6 separate regions of the Homo sapiens genome follow, and regions 1, 2, 3, 5 and 6 are each reported to be linked to region 4. The links are microRNA targets in miRTarBase. Many come from high-throughput screens and were not tested one by one. Region 4 holds a microRNA gene; each other region holds the end of a gene's coding sequence.

What was found. Region 4 holds the annotated microRNA hsa-miR-506-5p (UAUUCAGGAAGGUGUUACUUAA, at 3,209-3,230, shown strand). A microRNA usually pairs through its seed, bases 2 to 8, with sites in the 3' UTR of a target mRNA and lowers its output. Matches are read on the target gene's strand: a 7mer-m8 pairs with bases 2 to 8, a 7mer-A1 pairs with bases 2 to 7 and ends in A, and an 8mer does both.
Region 1: the mRNA of SERTM1 is a reported target of hsa-miR-506-5p. Seed matches in the 3' UTR shown: 7mer-A1 at 3,230-3,236.
Region 2: miRTarBase lists TFEC as a target of hsa-miR-506-5p. Seed matches in the 3' UTR shown: 7mer-m8 at 2,166-2,172 and 7mer-m8 at 2,132-2,138.
Region 3: the mRNA of IQGAP1 is a reported target of hsa-miR-506-5p. The part of its 3' UTR that is shown has no 7-base or 8-base seed match.
Region 5: miRTarBase lists CCN4 as a target of hsa-miR-506-5p. Seed matches in the 3' UTR shown: 7mer-m8 at 4,152-4,158 and 7mer-m8 at 4,358-4,364.
Region 6: the mRNA of SPTLC3 is a reported target of hsa-miR-506-5p. Seed matches in the 3' UTR shown: 7mer-m8 at 823-829 and 7mer-m8 at 4,426-4,432.

The regions. Positions count from the first base shown.
Region 1 is chr13:36,694,884-36,700,496 of GRCh38, reverse strand. SERTM1 (serine rich and transmembrane domain containing 1) reads right to left here. Exons shown (of 2, transcript NM_203451.3): 2 at 2,658-5,591. The coding sequence starts at 5,418. The coding sequence ends at 5,095. LOC102723490 (a long non-coding RNA gene) reads left to right here. Exons shown (of 7, transcript XR_001749825.2): 6 at 477-573. Among named protein-coding and RNA genes, the nearest start is that of SERTM1, 24 kb to the right of the region's middle.
Region 2 is chr7:115,935,648-115,941,260 of GRCh38, forward strand. It overlaps TFEC (transcription factor EC), which reads right to left. Exons shown (of 8, transcript NM_012252.4): 8 at 1-5,284. The coding sequence ends at 4,904. Among named protein-coding and RNA genes, the nearest start is that of TFEC, 92 kb to the right of the region's middle.
Region 3 is chr15:90,499,568-90,505,180 of GRCh38, forward strand. IQGAP1 (IQ motif containing GTPase activating protein 1) reads left to right here. Exons shown (of 38, transcript NM_003870.4): 38 at 428-2,672. The coding sequence ends at 541. Among named protein-coding and RNA genes, the nearest start is that of CRTC3, 28 kb to the right of the region's middle.
Region 4 is chrX:147,228,405-147,234,017 of GRCh38, reverse strand. MIR506 (microRNA 506) reads left to right here and starts at 3,175; the gene lies at 3,175-3,298. MIR507 (microRNA 507) reads left to right here and starts at 2,941; the gene lies at 2,941-3,034. All of the region lies in intron 2 of LOC105373347 (periphilin-1), which reads right to left.
Region 5 is chr8:133,226,391-133,232,003 of GRCh38, forward strand. It overlaps CCN4 (cellular communication network factor 4), which reads left to right. Exons shown (of 5, transcript NM_003882.4): 5 at 1,021-5,300. The coding sequence ends at 1,320. Among named protein-coding and RNA genes, the nearest start is that of CCN4, 38 kb to the left of the region's middle.
Region 6 is chr20:13,164,056-13,169,055 of GRCh38, forward strand. It overlaps SPTLC3 (serine palmitoyltransferase long chain base subunit 3), which reads left to right. Exons shown (of 12, transcript NM_018327.4): 12 at 699-5,000. The coding sequence ends at 812. It also overlaps a transcript of TASP1 not described here. Among named protein-coding and RNA genes, the nearest start is that of ISM1, 55 kb to the right of the region's middle.

The DNA of each region.
Region 1 (5,613 bases), not on the chromosome of region 4:
GAGAGAGAGAGAAAGAGAGACAGACAGACAGAGACAGAGAGACCAGGAGAGGGAGAGAGGGAGGTGAGAGCGTGGTTGAAACGGGAGGAGGAGGGAGGGGTGTGTGTGGCAACACTCATTCTCAGCTCAGGCCGTTTCCATGGCTAGAAGATGAGCAGATATTTGTAGCTGGGAGAACAACTCACCACCCACTCCCATACCCCACCCAGGGTGGATCTGAATAGGACTTTTTGTCCATCTCTGGTTTATTTTCTACAAAGCATCTACAGTCATCTTTCTGAAACAAAAATTCAATTATATAACTTACCTGTTTAAAATCCTTCAATGGATTCTTGTCACCCTCCGAATAAAATCCAAGTTACTACTTTAACCTACCAGTTCCTACATAGTCTGTCCTGCCCACCTCTCTAGACTCATGCTCTGGATCCCAGTACTCTGACTTTTCTGTTCACAAGCCTAGCCTTTCTCTGCCACAGGGCCTTTGTAGACGCTATCCCTTTGTGGAGAAGACTCTCAACACCCTTCAAATACTATGATCTCATCAGGAAGGCCCTCCCTGACCACCTATGCCTGGTGAGTTTCCCTTGTTGCTTATTATTTCACAGTTTTATTCTCTTCACAGTGCTAATGGCAATTGCAATTATACATATTGTTTGTTCATTTGTTTTTATATCTTCCTTACTAGATTATAAGCTCCGTGAGGGCAGGAACTATATCTGTCTGTTTTATCTAGTGCCAAAGGATGTATTCATTTATTTTATTTTATTATTTTAATTCTTATTTTAAATTCTGAGGTACACGTGCAGGATGTGCAGGTTTGTTAGATAGGTAAGGAATCAACCCAAATGCCCATCAATAATAGACTGTATAAAGAAAATGTGGTACGTATACACCATGGAATACTATGCAGCTATAAAAAGGAATGAGATCGTGTCCTTTGCCGGGACATGGATGGAGCTGGAAGCCATTATCCTCAGTAAACTAACACAGGAACAGAAAACCAAACACCACTTCTATTCATTTATTTAATAAATTCCCATTGATAATAATGTCTTATTACAGTGTCCAGGGTGGCAAACACCCTAACCCAGAGTGGACCCAATCCAACATAAAGAAAAGCTATACTTGCAATGGTTTGATGAGGTCTCTGCATAGTCAGAAGTGACTACAGGGGCTAGTGAGCACTGTTGCTATGAAAAGCAGTATTAGTAGGAAATGTTTCTTACTAAGTGGTAGATGTTTAGGCATGGTTTTGAATGAGAAGGTTGAGTGAGAGGGAGTTACTGTGCTCAGCTCATCACTGAAGGCAGGGGGAAATTGAAGTAAGTGGACTTTGAAAACTGAGGTGCTGTCTTCGAACACTGGGGATGATGGTTTGTTCTTGGATGGTGTATGTGTGGGTGAAGGAGAGCGTATGTCTGAGTTAATGTGTGTGTGTGTATGTGTGTTCATGCACACAAATGCATGCTTGGGCTGGCTGGATAACCAGGAAGCAAGAGAAGCACAGTTGTCCTCTCACTGATGGAGAGATACTGCAGAGAGCTGGTCCTGGGAGATCCAGAGCCTACCGTGAACTCCTCTGCTACAGACCTCCCTCCAGGACTCCATCCATACCACACCCATCCTCACACAGCCTGGGAGTATTCTCTCTTGAATAACTCAGACTCTCTGAAGTCTTAGGTCCAGGGTGTTGGACTGATAGGAACGTATCCCAGGGGACTTTCTAACAGAGAGTCGGAGAGTGGGACCTGGCATTAGATTGAAGTGGCAGCCTCTCTCAGACGGGTGGGAGGCTGACTTCAAGACAGGGGAGCAAGGATAGAAACTGGTGCTTCTCCTAGATAATGTTTTCCTAGTTATGCTGTTGTTTTCCTTTGGACTGTGGGAATAGTCTTACTTAGTACTCAATGTAAAATATTTTCTCTCATCTTATAAATCCTGTCAGCTACCCCCAGTCCTCTAACCTAGTCTGTTATATGCATATCATCTTGTGGGGAATTAAGAGACAGGACAAGAAAGACATGTGACTTTTTGCACTTCCCTCTTCCACCAAGTTTATTACAATAGCAGCAGCAGCAGCAGCTTTCCATTGAGGAGAAGGGTGGCTGGATTCAGACTGGAGCAGGAAAGTAGGTCCCAGTGGGGATTTTGAGCTGTGCAGGGGATGCTCAGCTGGGAGCAACTGCAGTTACAAGGGCAGTGGCCGAGAGGTAAGACCCCTGTCCTCTGCAAATACGTAAGCACAATATATGTGATCCTTCCTCTGCCAGTTTCCCCGCTGATCATCAGCATCACCTGAAGTCCTTGTTAAAAATATCCAGAAATACTCTGGCTCCACTCCTGAAGGTCTGGGGTGTGGCGTGGGATCCTCTATATTGTCGAAGCACCCAGATCGTTCTTCTCATCTGGGAAATGTGGGACTCACTGTCGCAGAAGGAGGTGATCCTTGCAGGGCTGGGGAGAGGCTGACATTTGGGTCACACATTACTGACCCTGCTTCAGACAGAACGTACAGAAAAGGAGTGATATATTTATATGTAAATATATGTCTATACGTCTCTGTGTGTGTGTGGTGTATGCTTAAAACTCTTAGGAAAAGCTTCTTCTCTAGAAGAGATTATAAATCACCTCACTGGAAAAGAATCAAAGAACCAGGCTTTCAATGGACTCCACTTCTTTATTTATAAACCCATCTTCCAACCTTTCTGAACTTCTTAAACAACATGAATTCATCTCAAGTTGTACAATCTGTTACCTTGGCAAGCTTCTAATGACAAATCTTATTTTCCATCTTTGAATGTGGCTCTTAATTTCTCTACTAAACATTGAGAGCAAGAACCATTGCGGCAGGGGAGGAATGGGAGTGTGCTTGTGGATTTGATTTGATTTGATTTTTAAAGTAGTTTTGCTGTCAGAATTCTTTATATCTCTTTCACATGGAAAGGATATAAAGATACCCTGAGGACAGATCATACTCAGATTGTTCTGTTGTGTGGCAAATTTGTCCTTTTATTTAAAAAAAAATCACTTCATCCATGTCCTTGTTTCTCTCTATAACAAAAACAGCATAGGATTAGTCAAAGAGCAAAAGTGATAATATAGATGCCTCTGTAATCCTGTGTAGCTTTCACACGACTTTTAATTGGGAGTATGTGAGTTTATATATATATATATATATATATATTTATGTGTGTGTGTGTGTGTGCGTATATATATGTATATATACATATATTCAGAGAATGCTAATAATGCTCTAAAATAGCAGTTTATCTAGTCCAGTTTTTATACTACATAATGACACCCAACCCACTGCCATGCTTTAAATGGAAGCAGAGGTAAATTTTTCACTAATTATACATTTTAGGGCAGCAACTCTGTGCTGGTCTTATGGTGTTTGGGGACGTTTTTGATATATAAATAGTTAAATGTGTTCTGATTTAAGTGAGGCTTATGAATTAAAAGAAGAAGAAGACTTCTGATTTTCATTCCCAGACCTCCACTCACTCAGCATTTTAGTATGATAAAGATAAACCCTGTACAAATAGTGGATTCTTTCCCCCATTCTAATCACTGGAGAGTGCTGACTGCACAATCTAACCAAACGGTGTGTTGAAGCCCCACTGCTTAAGATGATTAAATGTTTTGAACAAGGAATGATTCAGTTGCCATGGGAAGACCGTGGCGTGTTGATGCAGTGGCCTCCTGTAGGTTGAATAAGTTCAGTGTTTACCCTGTGGGCCATTTATTTTCAAAATTAAATTAAAATTCTTACTCTTAAGGAGCTGCAGTTTGATTGTTTTGTTTTTAGGGGCAGCTTGAGTTCCTCCACATTCCATGTCTGAGCTCACATGTGTGCCTAATTTCACAGACAGCCCCTGCCACCCGCCCGCCGAGTTCAGACATACTCTGCTGCCTGCAGCACGGCAGCTCCTAGGATCCCTAAAGCTCCCAGCAGCTACACAACTTGAGTGCCTACAATTTTTAATACAAACTCACATCCTGAAATCCTAATGTAGAGTATTATGTTAACATACAACAACTAATTATCAGAGACGCAACATTCGTGGAGTATATAATAACACATATATTTGCAATTTAGTTTCTAAGTTTTACAACCTAATGTGAGTGAACAAATATCAGACATCTTGGAGGCTTAATATAATTCTGCACTAAAATTATAAAGACTATGAAACCGAATAAAGGAACTTACACGACAGCTAAGAGTTATTACTGTATAAAATACAACTAAATGAATATTTTCCATATGCTTAATTCTCACTGATAGAAATTATTCATATAAAAACTTCTTGGCATCTCTTCTGGTGCTTCTCTTAGTACTAGTAACAGCAATTAATCACAAAAATTCCACAACTTTGTGGCATTATGACTAAAACATAAGCAGAAAAACAAAATAAAACTCCAGGAGGCAGAAATACATCACAAGCTCCATCATAATACATGTTTGTCTTGCTATTAAAATGTAAACTCTTCCAAAACTTTCCCAAATGACTTACATTCATCAATAAGTGTGATTTTTACTTGTTAAAGTGAAGTTAAAGAAAATATTTAGCATATATTTACCCTCAGTTTTAGAAATGTCATACATTAAATCTAAATTGACTCTCTTCCTTTTTAAGTTTGGTGTCTCCACTTTATCTTTTAAATATGGAAAATAACTTCTACATAGGTCAGACTTGATTTTGCCAGTTTCTGCAGGCTCAGTTGATTTCACGGCTTTGTAAAAGAAATGAAGTGCGAGTCCATGTCCAGCATCCACGGAGAGGCCACCTCAGATGAGCCTACGGCGTCCAACAAAGTAGAATGAACTGACTTACCTGAAGAAGCCCAGTCTAGATTCATCAAGCCATTTGTGTGAAATTCTGCACCTTGGGGTTTGCACACATTTCCACCAACATCGGTGTCTCCATCCCCAAATGAAAAGCATCATGAACAGAAAAGAAATCAGAGAAAAAGGAGAAGGAGAAGCAGGTCTACACCAAAAGGATCATTTCTTTCATGAGGCAATGCCTCACGGGACACTTCCGTAAGGGGATGTCAAAACTGCTGCCACACTCAAGGACTCTTCCATTTTCCTCAGGATGAAAGGTTTGAAAAAGTGGACCTCTGAGAGGAAATGCTGCAGACTTCCAAATTGGTGAAAGAACTTCCAGCGTCGCTTGGATACTCTGGGTAGGAGGAACTGGAGGAGATGATATTTTTGAGCCTCTGGAGGGCAATGATTAAAAGCAGAAGCAGAAACGCTAAAAGGCTGAGGAATATGGACACATAGATGTAGACGTTTGACAGGTGGCCTGAGGATGGGTCCACTGACGTGGACAGGGATGTGGGAAACAGCTCAAGAAAAGTTCCATTCTCCACACTTCCCGAAAATCCTGAGGAAGTGTCAGGTTCAGACATCTTTATGGAGGGTGAAGGAGTGATCTGGTAGATTAAAGTCAAAACTTCACACAGGGCTTACACAGGACAGATTGGCATTTTTTCACGATCGTGTTTGCAGAATTCACAGGCTGTTAAATCAGCACAACAAAACTTGTTTCTCAAAGGCAGCAGGTATCAGATGTGCATTGAGACTGAAAAAAAAAAGCAAGTCAG
Region 2 (5,613 bases), not on the chromosome of region 4:
ATAAACTACCAGCTTTAGCACAAGAACAAAATTTATATTCTATGGAAAAAATACAGTGACAATATAGAATTTTTGCAATAAAACAGTAGTGCAGGGATAAAAGAGGTAGTATTACAAACACAAAAGTCTTTACTGTTATTCTTTATGCCTGTTGGATAATGTAAGAAAAAGACATTTTACAGAGAATTTCATCAGTAGAAAACACAATAGAAGTCATCTGATTATGCAGAAATACACATAAAAATCCCTTTACAAGCAGATAAAAAGTTCCCTTTTATGTATAAAGCAGTAGACAATAGTACTTCATCATTAAGTTGGTTGAATCCTGGGAGATATATTTTTTAATCAAAATAGCTGTTTTCGGATAATCTCCTATACATTCAAATCTCTATGGACCTCAGAGGGAAAATGTAGCACTGAAAATTTTAAGAAAAGCTATTTTTTCTGCTTTTGGATTGTTTCCTTGTTTTCAAATTAAAATTCATACAAACAATAAAACATTGGAACATCAATGCACAATGATTACAGGAGGCTCATGTAACATAGGAGATCAGTAACACTCGAAATGTATTTTGTATTTATTAGGTAAATGTAATGAAATCTCTGTATATATGTATACTAAGTCAAACTGACATACTTATCAACATATAGGGCACTGGAGGGATAAATGATGTAATTCCATGTAGCACATAGAGACTATGCCATTATCAATACTGAAACAAAATTCAATCCTTCGGGTGTCTTTAAGAAACCCAGATGGTTGATCTTGCGCTGATAACACAGTGAAATAATTAATTGATTCCAGTTTTATTCCACATCTTACACATCAGACGGTCAGTAAATACCTAAAGTGTTTGAATAGGGTCAAAGACATTGTAAAAAAATTTGGAACACTTAGTTATGCCATTTATTTATTTGAACGTTTAAATTCCACAATATCCAAACAGGAAAAAAGTGTTTCCATGATGCCTTGAAGTATAAGAAAATTCCTATATGACTCAGTTTTTCAAAATAAAATAAAAATATATTCCTTTTAAAGTTGTGAAATCTAATTCCCCTCATGACATTATGGTAAATGAGCACACCAAATCAAGACATTCTTTGTATCTGTTTTTTTAAGTAAGAGCTATTAAATATTTGATTTACAGTCATGTAGGTGGGAAAAAAATGAGTTGAAAAAGGAAGAGGAAGGCTATTTCTCAATGTCCCCAGCTCATCTGGCTATTTATTATTTAGGGCTTTTTTAAAAACCTATATAAAGAAAGCCATGGTCACTGATATGCCTATAAACTGAGAAAATACCATCTGTACATATATTCTCCATTTGATATAGGAAAAATTCAAGAAGAAAAGGCACTAAAGAAAAAAATTGTAAAGAGCTGTATCTACTCACAGGAGGTCATCATTATTTTAAGACAATTGGAAGTTGGAAAGGGCTGTTTAATGTGAATCCAAGAAAAAGCAGCCAATATTTAATAATATAAAAAATGATTGGATGGGATATTTTGTTGAAAAAAGAATGAAAAACAATAAAATTATTGTATCTTACTTTAAAGGAAGTTTTATTATAATTGTAATTATGAATTAAATCTTTAAATGAAAAGGGATAATTGTATATTAATTGAATGAATAAATCAATAATTATGCATTAATAGTCCCATTACAGTTGATGCTTTTTGTGACAGCATTGTTTGATAAACATATGCCTCTTTTACTATTATGAAAAATCTCATTTCTGCAAGAAATATTCTAGAGAGTCAAATTTTTCTAGAAGTCTATCTTGTTTCTTAGATACTCAAATAATTTGCTTTTAAATTCACACTATTTTTGTTTGGAAATTTATTTGCATCATTTCAAAATGTTATGGTCAGATGTTTATAACACTCAGTAATTATAGTGAAACTGACCCATATATAATAAATAGAAGGCATAGTTTGCTGAGTGGGGAGGACATGTTTGATAAACGACTACTTCATAAATGAACAACTTTTTTAGTGAATAATCTAAAGTTTGGTACACTATTACTTTCCTATGCAACCTCATCATTATTAGGATTGGGATAATTATATTTAGATAAGTAAGGGTCCCCCCATTGTTATACATGACATTAACCGCACACCTAAGAGACCTGATTCAGGAATTTTTCACTTGGGATCCAAGAAAACATTCAGGAGATCCCTAAGATCTCTGAATGCATGTGAATTATTGTCCATATAAACAGTTCTATACTTTTCTAGGGAGAGGGTCTATAACTCACTAGATTCTCAAGGTATCTGCCTTAAAAAGTTAAGAACTACCATCTAATTAATTTTTAATGTATTTCAGTTGACCGGGACACAGCATAACTCTTTACTCTCTTTAAAAATTCATTACCCTTTTTACAGTTCCCTGACATCTCATAATCTGAATGTAGCAGCAAATAGCAGTTCCCTCTCCAGATCTCTTGTGTCCAGGCTCTATCATCCTGTGCCAAGTCCTTATCTCAGCCAAGATTGTGAAGGATAGATTTCAAGGCCCAGTAGTTGTACCTTAACAGAACAGAAAATAATGACTGAGTAATGACATCATCAGTGCAAGTCTACTCAAAATATGAAGAAATGAGAAGAGCAGATAAAATGAGAACTGAAGCCAGTCTCTATCTAATAAAGTGGTGTGTTTTCTATGAACTCCAAAATATATTCCTTATCTATAATTTTTAACATTTAATCAAATTATCAACTCAGATAATGAAGTGGAATTTTGTTATAAAATTAAAAGTATGTAATATCGTCTTGAAAATTATTGAGAAGATGTATCTAATAGCTGTTTCACATGGCATATTTCAGATGAATTTATCTATCAGGCTTTAATGACTGTACCCAGAAGTTAGTAATTATTTTTCCATGTCAAACAATAAAATTATTTTAATTCTCCAAATTCTGAGCAAATGATACAAGCTAAGCCTGAGATAATTATTATACCATAATGATTTACTATTTTTCTACTTTTATCAGCATTAGGGTCTCACATTTCATAGTGACATATTTTCCATGTGAGAAGCAACTAAAAGATCCTTTCAAAATTTATCCCAAAGCTTAATATTCATGAAAGATTACATCTCACTCATTAGTAATATATATTTTAGTTTTTAGCATCCTCCCTGCTACTAAAAAGATTTGTTTCTATTATATTAATACTATATTATTTCACCATAGTTTTCTAAGGGCCTTCACAACCTGTTGTCAGTCTTATGCTTCAGAACTCCCCAACAGACATCTTCTAGGGCATCCAGATCTTTCTAATTAAAGTCCTATAAAGATACTTCCCCTATTATTCTCACTTTTATCATTTGGTTGGTATTATTCCTTTATATGCCCTCACTTTCACTCAATTAATGCCTTTCAAAGAGAAGTCAAATTCTGCTGTTCCCATAAAGTTTGTCAGTCATTTTCATTTTCTCTGACCTTCTGTATTTACAGTTTATGCTTAGATTTTTTATTCTATATGTCTTCTATCTTTTGTTTTTGTTTTTCATGCATTCTCATTAACTACCTTAGGAGTAAGACCATATCTTTTTCAACTCTTCTACATTTTCTCAGGACTCACTGCAGTTCTGAGTATGCCTCCATGAATACTCATTGATCGGATGATCACTCTTGGAGGTCCAGCACAGAGCAACGTGCTTGGTAACTTAATTTCCTAACCTAAAACAAGCGCAAGAGATAAAAATCTAAATGAAGCATCATAGTTATAAGTGCTTATAATAAATGCTAACAGTGCAACCAAAGATCATAGGACACTCTAAGTGTTTATAGAAATAGAACCTTACGTTCCTCTCAGAACTGAAAATAATAAGAAATAGTTTGTTGTAATAATTATTTTGTCAATTGGCAATTCAATTTTCAATATTTTATCCATTTGGAGAAAAACCAAATCAACAACTAATTGATTTCTGTCCAATACTGATGAAAAGTTTTAAGTACCTGAAAACTGTCCTTGCAGGGGGACATTTTATATTTTATTTACTAAAATTGATGATCTGACATCTCTTCTTCATAAGAAAAGAGAATTTGGAATGTGATTCTGATGCAGTCAGAAGCATGAAGAAAACAAAAGAACATATACTACCTGAATGATGTGCATATGTGTATGTGTATGTTTGTGTGAAGGGATACAATTCTGGTCCATATTCCTGAGGAAAATATTCAATATGTTCCTTTTCCTGAACAGAGACTGGAGATATAAATATGCATGGATGCTTTTAGAATTAGTGTAATTGAACCAACTACAATAAAATGAGGATCTAATTTTAGTAACCAATGTTTTTATAAGTTATCCATATTTTATTGTGGAAAATTCTCACATTTATTGTAGATTTGCCTTTCAACCACAAGTGACAGATAATCTATTATACATTTATTTATCCTATAAAGTTTGAACTTTAGACATGTCTACTAGACAATGGAGAAAGGCAATGACCACCTGATATGTTGATCTTGATTCCGGAAGACTGATGTGAAAGTTGAAGAGAAGATGGAAATGAGTAACTAAGAGACTGTTTGTATATTTCAGTCGTTTAACACTTTGCAGTCATTAGTTCCAGTAGTACACCACCAAGTTGCTGCTTTTAAAACATCAATAAAGAGCTATTTCTTATGCTGTACCTCTTTTCAGGAAAACAGAATTTAAGTGGATTTGGACTCCGTAGTCAAAGAAGAAAACACCTTTTTTTCGCCCTCAATAATTCATTAACACTATGATTTTTCTTCCTGCGAATTCTTCTGTTGCTTCTATCAGTTTTTCATGAACAACACATTCCTTTAAGAAAAAAAATAAGCCAAAGCAACATATGAAACACAGAGCATAATTGCATAGCACCAGCATAGAATTGCTTTCCAGTTGATGAATTGGGTCTGTTTATTTCTTATAATTCATCACCATCATCTGAGCTAAAGCTACTTCTCCTACTGCTTTCTTTGGAAACTGCAGGGGAAGTGGCAGATAGCAGAGGATCTGTTCCAAATGGAGAGATTGTGTCATCCAATAGCATGCCATCCAATCTTTGTTCCTCTTTCAATGCAGCACTAAATGATAAATCTGTGAAGTATGACAAAGGATCAGAAAAGGCTATAGCTTGATCACAGAGCTCAGGGCTTGGCCCCTGAGACACAGTCAGTTGTTGGCAATAGTCTACTGAATTCTGCTCAGGATGGCTCTGCTGTTTGGTGACATGAGCACCTAAATCAACCGTGCCAAGTGAAGCCAGGGTTGGCAGACCATGAGTACGAGCCTGAATTTCTAGTTCCTGTAATTTCAAACGAAAATCATTAAATAATGTCTTTGAAATTGGATTTAACACTAGAGAATAAGCCAGACATAGAATCAAAATATTAACAAGCATTTAAAATGAAGAGTAATACAATACAAATTATGAATAATCTTTGCAAATAATGAAATTGATACATTTCTGATGCATGAAAAATAACTCTGAGAAAATTACTCAGACTTTTTTTTAAGTTTGGTCTCATTGTTCTACAAAGGTTATGACTGATGATGGTTCCATAGTGGCTCAGACTACAATATAGCCATTTGGAGATAGCAGAAAGTCATCTATTTATTCTTCCTGATTAATTT
Region 3 (5,613 bases), not on the chromosome of region 4:
TTCATCATAGGTTTAAATGCTTCACCTTTTCCAGATTTATTAAAACTAGTGACCCATAACATGGATGAAATGGGAAAATGTCATTGTGACTTCTGAAATAAAAAGCTTAGATGTGTGTGGCAATTGAACATGTTTCTTTTTCTTTCCATGTATGATGAATTTTGATATGAACAACATGACTTCCTAACTCCAAATCAACCAGAAGCCTCCCTTGGCCAATGTGCCCTATTGCTCCAGCTCTCAGGCTGGTTGTGCAGTGGGTAGTTGCCTAGCGTGGAACTTTTCTTTCGCCCCAGTTCACATCTGGCACACAAGGCAGGCCTCAGTCCATCTGGATCCCTCCCTACATTGTGTCCTTTTTCCTTGTTCCACAGACTTGATTAACTGTCAAAATGTTTTGTTTTGTTTTGTTTTGTTTTGTTAATAGGACCTGCTGCAGCTACAGTATGAAGGAGTTGCAGTCATGAAATTATTTGATAGAGCTAAAGTAAATGTCAACCTCCTGATCTTCCTTCTCAACAAAAAGTTCTACGGGAAGTAATTGATCGTTTGCTGCCAGCCCAGAAGGATGAAGGAAAGAAGCACCTCACAGCTCCTTTCTAGGTCCTTCTTTCCTCATTGGAAGCAAAGACCTAGCCAACAACAGCACCTCAATCTGATACACTCCCGATGCCACATTTTTAACTCCTCTCGCTCTGATGGGACATTTGTTACCCTTTTTTCATAGTGAAATTGTGTTTCAGGCTTAGTCTGACCTTTCTGGTTTCTTCATTTTCTTCCATTACTTAGGAAAGAGTGGAAACTCCACTAAAATTTCTCTGTGTTGTTACAGTCTTAGAGGTTGCAGTACTATATTGTAAGCTTTGGTGTTTGTTTAATTAGCAATAGGGATGGTAGGATTCAAATGTGTGTCATTTAGAAGTGGAAGCTATTAGCACCAATGACATAAATACATACAAGACACACAACTAAAATGTCATGTTATTAACAGTTATTAGGTTGTCATTTAAAAATAAAGTTCCTTTATATTTCTGTCCCATCAGGAAAACTGAAGGATATGGGGAATCATTGGTTATCTTCCATTGTGTTTTTCTTTATGGACAGGAGCTAATGGAAGTGACAGTCATGTTCAAAGGAAGCATTTCTAGAAAAAAGGAGATAATGTTTTTAAATTTCATTATCAAACTTGGGCAATTCTGTTTGTGTAACTCCCCGACTAGTGGATGGGAGAGTCCCATTGCTAAAATTCAGCTACTCAGATAAATTCAGAATGGGTCAAGGCACCTGCCTGTTTTTGTTGGTGCACAGAGATTGACTTGATTCAGAGAGACAATTCACTCCATCCCTATGGCAGAGGAATGGGTTAGCCCTAATGTAGAATGTCATTGTTTTTAAAACTGTTTTATATCTTAAGAGTGCCTTATTAAAGTATAGATGTATGTCTTAAAATGTGGGTGATAGGAATTTTAAAGATTTATATAATGCATCAAAAGCCTTAGAATAAGAAAAGCTTTTTTTAAATTGCTTTATCTGTATATCTGAACTCTTGAAACTTATAGCTAAAACACTAGGATTTATCTGCAGTGTTCAGGGAGATAATTCTGCCTTTAATTGTCTAAAACAAAAACAAAACCAGCCAACCTATGTTACACGTGAGATTAAAACCAATTTTTTCCCCATTTTTTCTCCTTTTTTCTCTTGCTGCCCACATTGTGCCTTTATTTTATGAGCCCCAGTTTTCTGGGCTTAGTTTAAAAAAAAAATCAAGTCTAAACATTGCATTTAGAAAGCTTTTGTTCTTGGATAAAAAGTCATACACTTTAAAAAAAAAAAAAACTTTTTCCAGGAAAATATATTGAAATCATGCTGCTGAGCCTCTATTTTCTTTCTTTGATGTTTTGATTCAGTATTCTTTTATCATAAATTTTTAGCATTTAAAAATTCACTGATGTACATTAAGCCAATAAACTGCTTTAATGAATAACAAACTATGTAGTGTGTCCCTATTATAAATGCATTGGAGAAGTATTTTTATGAGACTCTTTACTCAGGTGCATGGTTACAGCCCACAGGGAGGCATGGAGTGCCATGGAAGGATTCGCCACTACCCAGACCTTGTTTTTTGTTGTATTTTGGAAGACAGGTTTTTTAAAGAAACATTTTCCTCAGATTAAAAGATGATGCTATTACAACTAGCATTGCCTCAAAAACTGGGACCAACCAAAGTGTGTCAACCCTGTTTCCTTAAAAGAGGCTATGAATCCCAAAGGCCACATCCAAGACAGGCAATAATGAGCAGAGTTTACAGCTCCTTTAATAAAATGTGTCAGTAATTTTAAGGTTTATAGTTCCCTCAACACAATTGCTAATGCAGAATAGTGTAAAATGCGCTTCAAGAATGTTGATGATGATGATATAGAATTGTGGCTTTAGTAGCACAGAGGATGCCCCAACAAACTCATGGCGTTGAAACCACACAGTTCTCATTACTGTTATTTATTAGCTGTAGCATTCTCTGTCTCCTCTCTCTCCTCCTTTGACCTTCTCCTCGACCAGCCATCATGACATTTACCATGAATTTACTTCCTCCCAAGAGTTTGGACTGCCCGTCAGATTGTTGCTGCACATAGTTGCCTTTGTATCTCTGTATGAAATAAAAGGTCATTTGTTCATGTTTGTGTTTTTCTCAGTTTCATTGTTAACAGTTCCTGCTAAACACCTTGACTAGAGTGAGATGTATCAGTTAAAATCACAACAGCAGACAACCCCTTCCTTTTAAAGGAGAAAACGTAAGTCCACCATCAGATCATTGAATGTCTCAAAGTGACTTTTAATGTGTGAACGTGTGACTTTAGCCTTTTTAATGAATATGCTTAAGTTATCTTCACCATAAAAAGAAGGGTGTTGCGGGAAGCAAACATTATATGTCACTTAATTCTGATTGACGAACGGTGGAAAGTTTAAAATTGCAACAGCATTTAACCTTTTTTGACCAGCATACTGTTGTTGAGCACATAGACTGTGCCCCTTAGGGGGTTCCTATGTCACTTGGAAGTCACCAGAAAAGACTAGGGGATGTTGAATGTGGAAAAAGTAAATCACAGCAGTAAAAAAAGAAGAAAAGGGGCTGGCGTAGTGGCTCACACCTGTAATCCCAACACTTTAGGAGGCCGAGGCGGGCCGGATCACCTGAGATCAGGAGTTTTAAGACCAGCCTGGCCAACATGACGAAACCCCTACTAAAAATACAAAAATTAGCTGGGTGTGGTGGCACACGCCTGTAATCCCAGCTACTCAGGAGGCTGAGGTAGGAGAATCACTTGAAGCTGGAGGCGGAGGTTGCAGTGAGCCAAGATCACACCACTGCTGTCCAGCCTGGGAGACAGAGCGAGACTCCATCTCAAAAAGAAAAGAAAAGGCTTCCTTGTCAGAGGGCAGCCTTACTTAAAAATACAAACATGTACATAAGCATCCTGTTGTGTTGGTAAACTGTGGCCAGACTATATTGGAAAATTAGTGACAGGTTGAAATAAGGGGGGAAACGGAATAATTCTAAAATAGGGAAAATGAAAAATTGGAGGTGATGGTTTGTACGAGTGGTTGGAGATGACCGCATGCTCCTCTGAGGAAGAGTGAGGGGAAGAGCATGGCTCTCCTGGTGGGACTCTGGAAGGTACCCTTCTGAGCCCCAGGTTTCTCGTTCTGAAATGGAAAGGATGCTGTCTGGTAGCTTTGTTATTGAAACCTGAAATATTTTAATAATATGCTCTATATTGTCCTGCAAAGAAATCAAGGGAGTTAGAAAAGTGCTTATCAGGACTGGGTGCAGTGGCTCATGCCTGTAATCCCAGCACTTTGGGAGGCCAAGGCGGGTGGATCACAAGGTCTGGAGATCGAGACCATCCTGGCCAAGATGGTGAAACCCTGTCTCTACTAAAAACTACAAAAAAAATTAGCTGGGCGTGGTGGCGCATGCCTGTAGTCCCAGCTACTCAGGAGAATGAGGCAGGAGAATCGCTTGAACCTGGGAGACAGAGGCTGCAGTGAGCCGAGATCATGCCACTGCACTCCAGCCTGGGGGACAGAGCGAGACTCTGTCTCAAAAAAAAAAAAAAAAAAGAAAAGTGCTTATCGGCCGGGCACGGTGGCTCACACCTGTAATCCCAGCACTTTGGGAGGCCGAGGCAGGGAGATCACGAGGTCAAGAGATCGAGACCATCCTGGGTAACACGGTGAAACCCCATCTCTACTAAAAATGCAAAAAATCAGCTGGGCTTGGTAATGGGTGCCTGTAGTCGCAGCTACTCAGGAGGCTGAGGCAGAAGAATGGCATGAACCCGGGAGGTGGAGCTTGCAGTAAGCTGAGATCGTGCCACTGCACTCCAACCTGGGCAACAGAGCGAGACTCCATCTCAAAAAAAAAAAGCTTATCAAGGTATAGCAACATTAAATAAGAAAAATAAGAGGGAAAATCAGAGTAGGGGCTGGACGTGGTGGCTCACACCTGTAATCCCAGCGCTTTGGGAAGCCAAGGCGGGTGGATCGCTTGAGATCAGAAGTTGGAGACAAGCCTGGCCAACATGTTGAAACCCTGTTTCTACCAAAGATACAAAAATTAGCCCGCGTGGTGGTGCGCACCTGTAGTCCCAACTACTTAAGAGGCTGAGGCGGAAGGATTGCTTGAGCCTAGGAGGTTGAGGCTTGTGGTAAGCCATGATTGCACCACTGCACTCCATCCTGAGTAACAGCAACACCCTGTCTCACAAAAAACAAAAAGAAAAAAAAGTAGGAAAGTAAGATGGAACCCAGAGCAATGGCAGAGTGAATGCCATGGAGTCCCAGCTGCTGCTGGTGGTGCCACTGCACCAACGGGGAGGGAGACGGGGTTGTCACAGCCCTGCTGCTCATTCTTTTGCCTGTGTATCCCTGAAAATAATTTGGGAAAACGTATACATCCCTTCACACATTTTAAGTTTGACAAATACATTTTTAATGTTTAAATCAAGAGTACCTGCTAGCATGTGAATTTTAATATAAAAATGACCATAAAAATATCGAATGGAACCCACCTTCATTCATTTTTAAAGGTACATGAACAAAGCTCTTAGTTGGAAATTTCTTTTTTATTTCTTTTTTATTTTATTTTATTTATTTTTGTTTGAGACAGAAGTCTTGCTCTGTCGCCCAGGCTGGAGTGCAGTGGCGTGTTCTCGGCTCACTGCAACCTCCACTTCCCAGGTTCAAGCGATTCTCCTGCCTCAGCCTCCTGAGTAGCTGGGACTACAGGCGGCTGCCACCACACCTGGCTAATTTTTTGTGTTTTTAGTAGAGACGGAATTTCACCATGTTAGGCAGGTCTCAAACTCCTGACCTCAAGTGATCCGCCCACCTCGGCCTCCCAAAGTGCTGGGATTACAGGTGTGAACCACTATGCCTGCCCCTGGAAATTTTAAATCTTTACAAATTTAACGTTTTTTTTCTCTACTCTGCTTCCTTCAGAATTTTACCCTAGTGAAATATTTTAAAGGACATCTTATTTTTGGTCATCTGTAACAAAAATAAAAATTTGTTTTCGTGACCATAAGCCTATTAACCCAATCTAGAAAAACATTT
Region 4 (5,613 bases):
TGTTTATACACCCATGAAATCATCCCCTAAATCAAAATAAATAGGGAATATTATACATCCTCCCTGAAAGATTCCTCCTGCCTCTTTGTGATCCTCATTTTCGGTCTTCTGCACATAACCACAGAGCCATGCAGCCACTAATCTGCTTTTATTCACTATGGATTAGATTTTATTTTCCAGATTCTTATTTTTTATTTTTTGAGATGGAGTCTCTCTCTGTCACTCAGGCTGGAGTGTAGTGGCGTGATTTCGGCTCACTGTAAATTCTGCATCCCAGGTTCAAGCAATTCTCCTACCTCAGCCTCCCGAGTACCTGGGACTACAGGCGCACACCACCATGCTGAGCTAATTTTTGTATTCTTAGTAGAGACGAGATTTCACCATGTTGGCCAGGCTGGTCTCAAACTCCTGACCTCAACTGAACCTCCCACCTCAGCCTCCCAAAGCGCTGGAATTACAGGCATGAACCACGGTGCCTGGCCAAAATTTTTTATTAAAATGGAATCATACTGTATATACTGTTTATTTTGGCCTAGCTTATTTCTCCTGGCATAATTATTTTGAAATTCGTCCACATTGTTATTTGCATCAATAATTTATTTGTTTTTATGGATGAGTAGTATTCCACTGTATGGATATTCCAGTTTTTTTTAAATGCATTCACCTGTTAATGGCCATTTGTCTCCAGTTTATAGCTATTTTGGCTTTGACTACTAGAAAAGACGTAGCTATGAACCTTGATATAAAAATATCTGTATGGAGAGGCAGAAGGAGAGAAGGAGAAAGAGAGGGGAGGGGAAGAGGAGAAAGGGGAGAAGGGAGAGGGTGGAAGAGGGAGAGAGAAGGAGAAGGGGAGGGAGGGGGAGGAGAAAGTAGAGGGGGAGGGAGAACCAATTCCTGGAGCCCACAGGAAGCACGACCTGGGAAGCAAGGTGTAAATGTTACATGTCCATATCAGAGGATGGGATAGAATTTGATAGTCTGCTGCTACATTATCTCCCAGGAAAGCTCTTTCAAATCATGTCTTTCTTGGTGTCTAGTTGGCAACTGATGATGTGTGTGGATTTTGTTTTTGCAGTGGCCAAATACCTCACTTCACCCAAAGTCATGAGGAAATACAGGCTGTAGTGAAGAGGTGGGAAACTGTTCTACTTTGTTTTCTATCATTGTTTATTATGATACCTCATCTGTTTACTTCTCAGTGTCCACTGCTCTCCTTCCTACACTCGCAGCATTTCTCAGTGCAGTGTCGTCTATCCCTGATACGTGCTAGATTTCCTTTGAACTTCGTTCTCTGTTTTGTTTGGGATTATTGGAAAGTAAAGTTACATTTTAGTGTATTTGTTTTTATGTTTTGGGGGTTTTTGTATTGTGTATGTTCTTTTTGATTTTTGTTATTGTATTGCTTGTTTGCTTTTTTAGGGTTTTTGTTTCCTGTAGAATTTTGTATATTTGGATGTGTTTTGTATATTTTGTGTGTTTTTTTTTATTCCGATTTTGAATGGTGTTTTTAAATGTGTGTTAATTAGAATTTTCAGTAGTATTTTTACATTCTTAAAAATTGTTACTCCCGGCTGGGCACGGTGGCTCATGCCTGTAATCCCAGCACTTTGGGAGGCCGAGGCCAGTGGATCTCCTGAGGCCAGGAGTTCAAGACCAGCCTGGTCAACACGGTGAAACCCTGCTTCTACAGAAAATACAGAAAATTAGCTGGGTCTGGTGGCACATGCCTGTAATCCCAGCTACGTGGGAGGCTGAGGCAGGAGAATCGCTTGAACCCAGGAGGCGGAGGTTGCAGTGAGCTGAGATTGTGCCATTGCCCTCCAGCCTGGGCAACAAAAGCAAAACTCTGTCTCAAAAAAAAAATTGTTACTCCTTTATTGTTTTTTTAGTTGACACATAATAATTTGTAAATATTGATGAGATATAGTGAGATGTTTTGATACATACATGCATTGTGTAATAATCAAATCAGGGATTTAGTATTTTCATTACCTCAAACGTCCATCACTTCTTTGTGGGAAGAACATTCAAAACCCTCTCTTCTAGTGATTTTGGAATATACCATAAAATATTGTTAACTAACTATAATCAATCACTCTTCTGCACAATAACACATCAGAACTTTTAGCCCTCCTAACTGTGACTCTGTACCCATAAACCAATTTTTCCCCAACCCCCCTTTCCCTTCCCTTCCCCAGACTCTGGTAACCATCATTCTACTCTCTACTCCTATGAGATCAACTTTCTTAGACTCTGCGTATGAGTCAGATCATGCAGTGTTTGTCTTTGTGTTTGCATTGCCCTATTTTGTGAGCATTCGTTTTGGGGTTGTTTGTTTCATTGTTCACATGTTTATTTGCATGTGTGGCATGCATGTGTTCACATGTGTTGCAGATATTTCTTGGTCTAAACACTGGTTTGCAAGTGCATGACTGTGGTGACTACTGCTTCTGCTGCTGTAGGCCTTCATCTCTGAACAGAGGATGCCAAACCAAGGCCCCAATGATATAAAGAAGATTCAAATTGGAAAGAAGAGAACTCTCCAGCACTGCTTCAACTGAGCTCTATCTGGCCTGCAATCGCTAGATATGATGAGTCACTTGAGTGGTCCTTTCTATGTAATGACTGGCTTTTGAGGCATATGAAGTAGTTGTTCATGTGCCAACTATATTAAATTGAAAATTAGCAGAACAATTTAGTGAAGTATGCTAAGTCTGGGAGGAAGAGGGAAAATTTTCTCTCTCCTAAAATCTGTCTCATTAAATGTGCAGCAGGTGAAGTAATTAATAAGCATTCAGTGAAAGACATAGGAGACAAAAGGGAGAGGAAAAAGGGTTTGTTTTTTTTTTAATCTATTGACTATATTCTGCTTATTCCTAGTGGACTGAGAGTGTTGGGATTCTGACTGAAATGGCGGAGTGAGGGACATTTTCCGCTGTGCTGTGTGTAGTGCTTCACTTCAAGAAGTGCCATGCATGTGTCTAGAAATATGTTTTGCACCTTTTGGAGTGAAATAATGCACAACAGATACAAGTCAGAACTACCCACTCAGTGATGGGTCAACTCATACAACCCTTTAAAGAGAATTCTGTGGGGTAAAACCTAGAGGATGAGGTTCTCTGGGAATAGCCTCATCTGTAGTTTCCCCGTGTTACTATTAAGATGGTCAGTGCCACCACCATCAGCCATACTATGTGTAGTGCCTTATTCAGGAAGGTGTTACTTAATAGATTAATATTTGTAAGGCACCCTTCTGAGTAGAGTAATGTGCAACATGGACAACATTTGTGGTGGCATTGGTAATGACGAGTGGAATTTCAGTGACAATACTGCCCTCCCTTGAGCCTTGGTACCCAACCTTTAGTGATGAGCCATTTCCAGGTACTCTCTGAAGTACCTCTTGAGAGATCTGCTCCAGAATCTGAGGGTGCCTGGGAAAAGTCTCTCATGTAGGTTTTTCAATTATTTATTGCTTTTTCTCCACAAAATGACTGACTACACTGGAAACAAGATTTGAGGTAGGAACATGATACTTCTTTTTCTCTTGTACCTCTTAGTCTTTTCTCTCTATAACAACCCAAATACACTTCTTGCCTTATAAACCCCTGAGAAGTTTACACTGATCTTCTTTCCTCACAATATTTAAGCCTTCTTTTTAGGGAGCACAAATATCCTCCTGCCCTTCCCTGCTGAACTCCAAACTCCATGAACCATCTTTCTTATGAAGTGATCTCCTCAAGGCTTAGATACACTCAAATTCCCTTTAATATTCCTGTGTATCCGTGATGATAATCTCATATCAGTGGAGTTTGATATGATACCCCAAATTTGCTTTCATTTGAACTATTTATATGTTTTTAGCTGGTCTTAACTATTATGGGAACGGATGAAGTGATGAGAACATATATGTATGAACATGTGTGTACATATACTTCTGGAAACTTTACATATACAAAGGGGTTTATATATCCCTTTATATATATATATATATATATATATATATATATATATACACACACACACACACACACACACACATACATATGACATTCACAGAAAAAGGAAAAGGATGCAGAAAAAGGATCATGTTCCTACCTCAAATCTTGTTCCCAGTGTTTTGTAGTCCTTTTGTGGAGAAAAAGGAATAAATGCTTAAAAAACCTACAGGACATACTTTTCACAGGTACCCCAGGCACCCTCAGATTCTGGATCAGGTCTTATAAGACCTTCAAAGAAACACCCAGGACAATGATTGAGCAAATATATATGTATATAATTATTATAGAAGTCTATTTTTAAAATAAATCCCTTAAGATATTTATTATAAGGATACTGCAAGGAATAACCTCAGGCAACTATGGAGGCTGGTGAGTTCCTAGATCTGCAGGGGGATGGGTCAGCAAGCTGGGGACCCAGGAGAACTGATGGTATAGTTGCAGTCCAAGTCCAGAGGCCAAAGAAGCAGTAGAACAAACCATTTTGTAGTTCCAGTCCAAAGGCCAGCAGGTTTGAGACCCAGGAAGAGCTAATGTTTTAATTTGAGTACAATGCCAGAAAAAAATGAGATGCCCCAGTTTGGAGGCAGTCAGGCAGGAGGAATTCTCTCTAACTTAGGGGAGAGTCAGCCTTTTTGTTCCATTTAAACCTTCATCTGATTGGTGCAGGCCCATCCATCCACATTAGGGAGGGTGGTCTGCTTTACTCATTCTACTGATTTAAATGCTAATGTCATCCAAAAAGACCTTCACAGAAACACCCAGAATAATGACTGACCAAATGTCTGGGCACTCCATGACCCAGTCAGGTTGAAATATAGAATTAATCATCACAAGTTCACTCCTTGTCATGTTGTCACTTATACGCATCTCCTTAAATTATATTTAATCATCAAATGAGAAAAATACCAAGGTCATAATTTCATTTAATAAGATACAACTACCATTTATACAACCCAGAATTCATGAACCACTTCACCAGAAGAGGAGATAAAGTCCTGGAGTGTTGTTTGTTTACTCTTCTCCTTGGTGTTCCATAACATCAATACTATGATTATTTAAAGTTAACAACGGTTAATAACTATGATATAATATCAGTACACCTTACGTTACATGATAAGGGGATAAGAGAGACAAGAAAACACAGAAGTATATTAATAAAAATATAAGTAGAAAATACTCATGGGAACTACAATTCTCATTTCTGTAACTGTCATCTGGTGTTAGCTGGTATTTACAACTACTTTTCTTCACTACCCATTTTGTATTCCCTTTGCCTTCAGCAAGCACCTCAGCCATTATATTTTACCTGGTAGAGTGACCCAAACTTTCATTTCTGAAGGGTCTGGGCCATTAGTAGTCCTGCCAGGATTGGGTTGTTGTAGTTTTCTACTGACCTTAATCACAAGGCATAGTAATACTAAGAGACATCTTATGTATTTCAGAAATATTCTTCCTTACCTCCATTGTGGAGTAGTACTCCAATTTTCCCTTGGTAGTCAGAATCACCTGCTCCAGGCCACACAGTAACTCCCTTCTCTGACCTCTTAAAAAATTAGGAAATATTGTATTGACTTTTCTCTTTCCGTGTTTTCAAGATATCTCTTCTTAAACT
Region 5 (5,613 bases), not on the chromosome of region 4:
CATCCCCTAGACACCTTCTCCAGTCATCTATATATTGATCAACTGGATCCATTTTTCTTCTTCCTTCTCCTTCTTCTCTTCTTTCTTCTTCCTCTCTGATTATTTTTCCCTGTAATACTAGCTTTTGTATTTTCTGCGCTTGGTATACAGTAAGCATTCCATAGACATCTCTTAACTGAAAACGTACATGGAAAAGGTACCAGCTGCAGAGGAATGACAGCAAAGGTCGTTAGCTGAGTGAGATGGCTCTACCATTACTGGACCACGTAATGCAAGTCCAAGCCAATTTTGATTTCCAACCAATTTTTTTCCAGAATTATGTGCCCTCAGAGGGTTTCCCAAATTGGGCAAGCTTCATGCCGCCATACAGCCTAGATCTAGCATACTATTTACACAGTAGACCCTGAGAACCCTCAATCCAATGGGTTTAGTAAGTGCCTACTCTGTACTAGGCATGGAATTATACCACAGAAACACAGAAAGAACAGTAAATCTCAAGTGGCCCATAGCCCAGTGGAAGGTAGCGTTACCTTTAATGTCAACCATTTGAATACGTTGAATACTAAAGGTATGTGTGAAAGGCCACGAGAGGCAAAGGCAGGAGGGGCGGTTAGGGCAAAGCGTGTCCCCTGAGTGTGGAGTCCCGATGCCAGTTCTGCCACTAGCTAGCCAGGGGAACTTGCTTGGATGAAGGAGCTACATAGGCTCCCCATGTTGGTGAAACCATGATGAATGACTGGCCATAGGCAAGACAAAAATGCAGGACAAAAGAGAAACTGCAGGCTGTGAGATACAACCCAAACAAAACATTTTTCTCTGTGGTCCTCCATTTACCCCTGTGCGGTATGCTGGATCTCACTGTGTTTGCTGTTGTCCCTCCTTGCTTGAGGATGCTGTGAAGCTGAAAGTAAGGTGGAATGCTCCCACATAGTGAGAAGGGAAAAACTGGGGGCTCAGGGGAAGAAGGTGGTTGTCCATTCTCTGAGCACTCCCACTGAAAGCTCCTTTCCTTTCCTTCAGGCAGGGAAGAAGTGTCTGGCTGTGTACCAGCCAGAGGCATCCATGAACTTCACACTTGCGGGCTGCATCAGCACACGCTCCTATCAACCCAAGTACTGTGGAGTTTGCATGGACAATAGGTGCTGCATCCCCTACAAGTCTAAGACTATCGACGTGTCCTTCCAGTGTCCTGATGGGCTTGGCTTCTCCCGCCAGGTCCTATGGATTAATGCCTGCTTCTGTAACCTGAGCTGTAGGAATCCCAATGACATCTTTGCTGACTTGGAATCCTACCCTGACTTCTCAGAAATTGCCAACTAGGCAGGCACAAATCTTGGGTCTTGGGGACTAACCCAATGCCTGTGAAGCAGTCAGCCCTTATGGCCAATAACTTTTCACCAATGAGCCTTAGTTACCCTGATCTGGACCCTTGGCCTCCATTTCTGTCTCTAACCATTCAAATGACGCCTGATGGTGCTGCTCAGGCCCATGCTATGAGTTTTCTCCTTGATATCATTCAGCATCTACTCTAAAGAAAAATGCCTGTCTCTAGCTGTTCTGGACTACACCCAAGCCTGATCCAGCCTTTCCAAGTCACTAGAAGTCCTGCTGGATCTTGCCTAAATCCCAAGAAATGGAATCAGGTAGACTTTTAATATCACTAATTTCTTCTTTAGATGCCAAACCACAAGACTCTTTGGGTCCATTCAGATGAATAGATGGAATTTGGAACAATAGAATAATCTATTATTTGGAGCCTGCCAAGAGGTACTGTAATGGGTAATTCTGACGTCAGCGCACCAAAACTATCCTGATTCCAAATATGTATGCACCTCAAGGTCATCAAACATTTGCCAAGTGAGTTGAATAGTTGCTTAATTTTGATTTTTAATGGAAAGTTGTATCCATTAACCTGGGCATTGTTGAGGTTAAGTTTCTCTTCACCCCTACACTGTGAAGGGTACAGATTAGGTTTGTCCCAGTCAGAAATAAAATTTGATAAACATTCCTGTTGATGGGAAAAGCCCCCAGTTAATACTCCAGAGACAGGGAAAGGTCAGCCCGTTTCAGAAGGACCAATTGACTCTCACACTGAATCAGCTGCTGACTGGCAGGGCTTTGGGCAGTTGGCCAGGCTCTTCCTTGAATCTTCTCCCTTGTCCTGCTTGGGGTTCATAGGAATTGGTAAGGCCTCTGGACTGGCCTGTCTGGCCCCTGAGAGTGGTGCCCTGGAACACTCCTCTACTCTTACAGAGCCTTGAGAGACCCAGCTGCAGACCATGCCAGACCCACTGAAATGACCAAGACAGGTTCAGGTAGGGGTGTGGGTCAAACCAAGAAGTGGGTGCCCTTGGTAGCAGCCTGGGGTGACCTCTAGAGCTGGAGGCTGTGGGACTCCAGGGGCCCCCGTGTTCAGGACACATCTATTGCAGAGACTCATTTCACAGCCTTTCGTTCTGCTGACCAAATGGCCAGTTTTCTGGTAGGAAGATGGAGGTTTACCGGTTGTTTAGAAACAGAAATAGACTTAATAAAGGTTTAAAGCTGAAGAGGTTGAAGCTAAAAGGAAAAGGTTGTTGTTAATGAATATCAGGCTATTATTTATTGTATTAGGAAAATATAATATTTACTGTTAGAATTCTTTTATTTAGGGCCTTTTCTGTGCCAGACATTGCTCTCAGTGCTTTGCATGTATTAGCTCACTGAATCTTCACGACAATGTTGAGAAGTTCCCATTATTATTTCTGTTCTTACAAATGTGAAACGGAAGCTCATAGAGGTGAGAAAACTCAACCAGAGTCACCCAGTTGGTGACTGGGAAAGTTAGGATTCAGATCGAAATTGGACTGTCTTTATAACCCATATTTTCCCCCTGTTTTTAGAGCTTCCAAATGTGTCAGAATAGGAAAACATTGCAATAAATGGCTTGATTTTTTAATGTCATTTTTCCCTCTTATAGTCTTTCTAGCTCCTTTTCAAAAGACGAGAATATCTGATTTTCTGATAATTTAGGTGCTTAAGCATCCAAAATACATGGGACACACAAAAATCCAGGAATCCCCTGTAGCTTATTCCCTCTTTCCCATCGGAACCAGCTCTCATCACACATTTAAAAGATGATTCTGTTTACCCAATGCTGCATATTGAATGTTGTGTAGTTATTCACAGGGAATTCTGTGCAGTGTGCAGAGAGATTCCTAAACGGGAAAAGGACTGGGAATACATCCTCCTTACTGTGACCTCCCCAAAACCTAGTCCAGTGCAAGGTATACAGTGGTGCTCATTAAATACTTGATGAATACAGGAAGCTGTGCATGTGTTCCTACTTTTATTCGAAGCTCTCTTCTTCCAAAGCTACATGAAAATAGAATTTTAACAGTCAAAATTTTATATTAAGTGCCTTAGCAAAAGAGACATTTAATATTTCAAAGAAATGCATATGTATGTATACATATATTTGTGTATGCGTATGCAAGAATTCTTGTATAAAGAGAATTCACTCCATGAATGATCTCTTCTGTAAGTCAGTGTGAATCATGTTAGATTTTCTGAGAGTGAAAACACCTGCCATCTACAAATTACAAGGCTGGATAACAGCTCACTCCATTTGAAATTCAGTGGAAACCCAAGAGCTAGGTTCTTACTGAATTTGCATCTCAATTTGGGAAACTGAACTTAGCTTTCAAAGATCATAGGAAGTCTGGTTGGAGAAACTAGGGATTATTCTGGCAATGGGTGCAGGAAGGTGGTCAGAATAACCCAGTCGCCATTGGTTTTGAGAAACGGAACTATCTTATGCAGAGCCCGGAGGGCAAGTCTCAGACCCATGGGTTGAAGCCATGGAGAAGGAAATTTGGATCCAATGTAATGAAGCGCTTTCTAAGTCAGAATTTCCCTGCAATGGTGTGGCCTGATTCAATAAAAATTAAGAATAATAAATATAATGGAAAAAAATCTCCACTGATTGAGTGTTTACTTGGTGCCAAGCACTATGCTAAGTTGTTCATTATTTTATTTAATTGTTACAGCAATTTTGAGTATGCATCTTTCACTATTTTATAAGTGGAAAAGAGAAGTGCCCCCAAAAAGTTAGAGCTCAAACAGCAGCTTATTCTACCAGCCCCTGCTCTTGCGGAGGCCTCTGGAAAAGACCTGAATGACACCTATTGGAGAATTACATCTACAAGGGGCTTCAAACAGACCAAATAGATCATCACCTCTGTGGTCCCTTGTTAACTATATGTTCTGAGACAAAGGAAAGCTACCCTAAGGGTTAGTTAACCTTTGCTGAGGAAATTTACATTCATACTTAGAGTGAATTACTCAGGTGTGCTTAGGTGTGCAAAAGGGAAGGAGACCTGAATTCACCAAGTTAAATCTTGCTAAACCTTATCATAAGCATTTTTTGAGCGCTTAGCATACACCAAGCCTTGTGGAAGGTGCTTTCCTGCCATATCTCATTTAATCCTCACAGCAAACCTATAGAATATGGCATTATCATCTGAGTCTCACAGAAGTTTAGTCGTGTACTCAAGGTCTTACCAGCTAGTGAACAGCAGACCAAGACTGGAAACCCAGGATAGTCTGATACCTGAGCCATCTCTTCTTGTGCTACGCCTAGTTATTCTGTCCCCCAAATCAAAAGGCATGACCTTTATAAGAGGCGCTTTACTGACAATAGCTGCAATTTTAACTTTGAAAATGATTCAGAATTATCAAAGATAGTAGATTCGAATGACATGATTGTCTATAATCTCGCTAGCCTTGTACTGTGTGTGCATAGCAATTACAGGGAAGTAATCTAGCTCCTGACTATTATGTTGAACTATGTCGCTGCTTTTTACAAACTTGTCTTGATCCAAAGCAGTCACAATGATAACCCTGCATATCTGGGAATCATAAGTCAACTATGTATCCCTGTGTGTGTATATATATGTATGTATGTATCTATTTTCAAACTGTGATTTAATATTTAAATATTCCTACTGCCATTTTTGTGACTGAAAAACTACACATGAGGAAACGTCTTAGAATTTTCCAATAGAGGAAAAATAACACTTGGGCAATCTGTCATGTTTCACAACAGTTCTCATTTTTCTCATGATTTGTGTAGCGTGGAATGTGTTTGCTCAATGTGAAGGGTTTTCATTGCTCAATTTCTCTGTGTAAGTCTTTTCCTTAAGGTAATAAACCATCAGCAAAGTCACATACTGGAGTTGGTGGCTTTTCTTGTACAGGCAGTTGTTATGAGACAATGATGGAGCATTGAGCATGTTCAATAAATGTGCAGATGGTGGAAACGAGGTCCCAGATACTTTATATACTGAAATTAAAATGGCTAAAAAAGTTTGGAAATGGGCTTAGAAACACAAATTTTAGAACTCAGAGAAGACAAGGGCTGCCAATGTATCCAGGCTGGAAGACACCTCATGTAAATATAAAATGAAATTTTTGGCATTCATTCATTCACTTACTCACATATTCACTGTCTGTCTACATCCCCAGCGAGACTGAGTATCATGAGGTCAGGGACTGTAACTGCGTCCTCTGAGCCTAGCTCAGAAGCAGGCGCATGTCAAGAACTGAGTAAGCAAGGACTGGATGGATGGACAG
Region 6 (5,000 bases), not on the chromosome of region 4:
CCCCCCATCCCACAACAGTCCCTGGTGTGTGATGTTCCCCTTCCTGTGTCCATGTGTTCTCAGAAAATGACCTTTTTTTACTTCCTGGATCTCATTTGTTTCATGTGCAAAATGGGGGATACATGTACCCACCTAAAGTAAGAGAGTTGAAACAGACAAGTTCTCAGTCCCTGTGAGTTAAGTTCTAGTATTTTCTGGGACACAGAGATGAGTATTTAAAAGCAGGAGGCCTGGGGTAGCATGAGAGGACAGAGGATGATGTTAATCAGCTCCCGCAACATTCCTCTTTGTTCTTGGCCAGGTGATTTGCTGTGTCATGAAGATATAACTTCAAATGCATTCTGCAACCTTATCTTTTTCTTCCACAAGACTACATATAAGTCACTACATTTTAAAATAAAACCTTTTAAGGGTAAGCATGGGTCACATGTTTTTATTCTTCTCTTCACACTCTCAAAATAAAATAAACATTCATAGTATGGAGTTAGACCACTAAATAAAATTAATTAGCATCTAACATTCCTCTAGGGTCTTAAACCACAACCTAATGGTACGGATCTTGCTTCTTTTCTTTAAAATCAAAGAAGCTAGCAAACTAAGACTGTGTGTCTTTGTGAGGCTTGCTATTAATCTGGGCTCTGCAAAGCAGGGCTACTTAGGTGTTCAATGATAGCTATTGGAAAGCAATCTCATTGCAGGTTTTAGAAGCTCTTGATGAAATGGGTGATCTCTTGCAACTGAAATATTCCCGGCACAAGAAGTCAGCACGTCCTGAGCTCTATGATGAGACGAGCTTTGAACTCGAAGATTAAGTTTCCTGGTCCTGAATGACACATAAAGACTTTGCGAGAAAGACCTCCCTCCTTGCCTCACAAGGAATATAAATGGATTTCTCCCCCTTCCTCAGGACAATTTTGGTTCCCAGACCAGCTTGATTGAACTGAGGGAGACGTTGTTGTTTTTAATGTCTCCAGCTTGGACTGCAGAGACAAAAACATGATTCCAGATTTAAGTCTCTCTTCTTCCAAGTATTCTACTAGAAATACACACACACACACACACACACTTCTGAGAATATTTTTAATGGCAATAAGCCTGTGTTTTAGCTGCTACTGTGCAGACCCTTTCAGGGATTCCAACCAAATGCAAATGAGAGAATTTAAAATTTTTATTCAGTAAGTTCACTATGTGTTTACTTATTCCATCTGCAGATGTAAGTGAGTGTGGTGGACAGTAGCCACCTTCCTTGTTCCACTCATAAAAGCATCAGCTAGATCTCATCTGTATCATGGGAAGTTCCAGGCAGGAGGGTAAAGAAATGTTGTTTCTACCATTTGTCACATTTGGACGTTTTTCACAGACAAGTGTCAAAAGACATAGTTAATGTTTCGAGGGGGAAAGCAGAACTGATCAACTGCGACTAGAGACGTCTTTGAAGGAAATTTTCCTTTTCCTCTTGCTGGTCTCCTACAGTTTTACAGCTGAGCTTTTGAGGTTTGGAAAATTCAAGATGTTTGTTTCATAAGAAAAGGGGCAGAAAGCAAGCACAAGACACTTTTAGGTCTAGACTAAAATGGTAGTTACAACAATTTGAACCTTGTTGGTGCAGTGCACGGTGAATGCTTACCCTGCACAGCCTCTATTACCTTAAGGAATTAGTTGTCATTTTCCTATTGAATTTTGAGTAAATGGTGAAATTCAGTGTCCTTTAGAATCGACTCCCAAGACTATATTTGAAGAATGCATTGATTCAAGAAGGACATTTAAAAGCAAATTCTGACTTTTTCAAGACCAACACACTTGTTTAGGCCTATTAAATTGTACTATCACTTGTTACATGCCCTCTGAATTGGGAGAAAGTGGGCTTGCACACTTTGAGGTAACTAACTGTAATTTACTTGTGTTCTCTCTTTCTTGCTCTCCTTCTCAACATGAACACAAACCTCTATGGAAAAGTAGCCTCTTGTTAATCTGATCTAGTTTGTATGGAAAAAGCCCATGGAGAACCTTATCTTTAACAAGCTCCCAGAGGGTGCCCAGATTTGGAAATTCTAGAGAGCAGTGGTGACCTTTTAGCAAAGCTTCTGTAACAGTTCGAATGAGTTGCAGAACATTCCACTCCATCAAATGACACTGTAAACAAATCACTTCAAGAGAGGCTTGGTTTTGTGTGGCACAGATGGACCCAAGCTTTCATGCTGTGCACTGAGATAGAAACTCCACCCGCAGCGCCTGCGATGGATGGAGCAGTGTGCCCTGATGCTCAAAGCGTATTAAAGGAAAAAAAGTGATCAGCATGGAAAGTTTTTATGGGGAAATTATAACTCCAAGTGGGTGCATTGGTTTAAAAATGGATCACAATGATAGAGTTCTTCATGAATGTTTACAAGTTGTAAGGAATACCGTTAGTGAAAGAGGAAAAGAAGTGGGTTCTGAAAATGCAGTTTCCCATCCAATGATTTTGATAACAAAATTCCAACTTTTCTCAATGAAACTGATGCAGTATTATTTGTGCAAATAAAATGTGTCATAAATATGCAAAGAAAGGGAGACATACTGTTCTTATCTTGAATATGTGCATTTAAATGAATTGTCCAAAATGCATAAATGCCTTGCGTTCTATAAAGGAAACAGGAGGTCAAAAAGACAGCGAGATATCTAGTCCTTCCACAAGGTATGGAAAGCAATAAACATCTTCCTTTCTTTCTGGATCTGTCTGTGATGTTTACACACACCTTCACATCTACACTTCAAGTTTTAAGCCCCTAGACATGTGTCTTCATGAGCAGGAATGTCCACTATTATTACTTTCATGGAGGATATTGGGTCTAATTCATTGTGGGAAACTACTTACCTACCCAGCATGGAAGGCAGGGAGGAAGTTAGTCTCTTTTCATCAAGATTCAAGAGTACAGGGGCAATTTATTACACTGCAATGTACAAAACAAAAGGACCTGTTTCTGTTAGAGAGTCCATGTTGAATATACAGGTATGAGAACAACTGTTGATATACAGGTATAATCCAAGTAGAATGCTTCCACAGTGCATTAGAAGGTGCCCAAGCTCCACAGGGCCAATAATATTAGAGTATATGTCATATAGAATAAGGTTAATTAGGAGGGTGATTGTGAATAATGAGATTTTTAATTTTTTTAAGAAAAAGCTCTCAAATGCTAGGCTAATAAGTTCATGATTTTAATTCATGATTTTAATTCATGATTAAAATTATTTGATTATTGAGTCTTGATAATTATATCATCAACCATTACCCTCTACATCACCGCCCCGACCTTAGCTCTAATTATATCAGAGCCAAAAATGTGTCTTTGGTTAGATCTGTTGGAAAAGAGAATTTTCTATAATGTTATGCGCACTCAGCCCTTCTGTTCACATTTACACACATGCACACACACATACACATATGCATTTTTCCTTTACGGAGTAAGCAACTATGAAAATCTGGTTGGTTGAGAAATAAATGGAAGATGTTCTTGAAAATGACCTCAGGAAAGCAGAAGATAAAGGTTCCAGATGATATTTGTAAGGAGGCTATCTCTGTATAATAAGGAAATGGCATAGACTTATTCCTAATCTCATTATGAAACGATGGTGTCATGGACGTTTAACCATATTGCCTTTCAGCATGCTTTGATTTTACAGAGACGACAGGCTTTGGAATTTACTAGGAAGCTGGCTAAAATCCATACCCCTAGGCCCTACACCAGACCTTTACTGAAACATAATAGTTGTAGTGCCCAGGAATCTACATTTTTAACCAGCCTTCCTGCGTGATTCTAATCTATGCCAAAATTTAAGAACATTATTCAAACTCTAATTTGATAAACCAATTGACTCTAATAGCAGGAACCTTGTTCTGATTCTCTTGTTCATAATTAAGTGTATATATACTGGTAAAATTAATTTATTCCACAGTCAACCTTCTCTTCTCATTGGGACATTTTGTTCCCATTTTCCAAGTAACTTCTCTTTCTACAAAAATTGATCCAATATTGAAGAACCATCTGCGATTCATTTGGGTAAAATTATGCCTTCTTCAGTTTTCTGTATCATTCCCTATAAGATGCCCATTTGCTTTGAATGTGGTATCTTTCTTTTCTTTCTTTCTTTTTTTTTTTTTTTTTGAGACAGAGTTTTGTTCTTCTTGTTGCCCAGGCTATAGTGCAATGGCAAGATCTCGGCTCATTGCAACCTCCACCTCCCGGGTTCAAGCGATTCTCCTGCCTCAGCCTCCTGAGGAGCTGAGTTTACAGGCATGTGCCACCAAGCATGGCTAATTTTCTATTTTTAGTAGAGACAAGGTTTTTCCCTGTTGGTCAGGCTGGTCTCGAACTCCTGACCTTAGGTGATCCTCCCACCTCGGCCTCCCAAAGTGCTGGGATTACAGGCGTGAGCCACCGTGCCCGGCCTGAATGTAGTATCTTTCTTCTGTTTTCTTTTCCTGCTCTTTAAAAAACAACCTTCAACCTCTGATTATTTATTCCAACAACAGCTCTTCAGTAGGGTAAAAGTCTTAACAGTTCTTCAAACGAACAATATTCTTTTGTATTTTTCTTCAGAGATAGCAAATGTTATAAATGGCCTACTCTGATTTAAAAACCTAAGTTCCGATGATGATGAAACATTAACTCTTAAATATACATTTTGATTTATAGCAATAATAACAATTGTAACAACAGCAATTAAGAACAGCATCTGGTGAATTCTTGGCAATGTTTCCTGGTCTCAAAACAGTAAGAACAATTTGAAGTCTGTTCTTTAGAATGCCCTACTCAGCTGCATAATGTTTAGAAAATTAAAGAGTCTGTATTTTAAATATTTTTAGGTAATTATTGCGGGACATTGTCTTATGGTGTCCTGATGTACGTGGGGTGTGCATGTGTGTGTGTGTGTGTGTGCATGTGTCTTTGTGTGTGTGAGAAGGACAGAGAGAAATGTATGTTTCACTGAAACATTTGAAACGACCAATTTCACTTTATTGT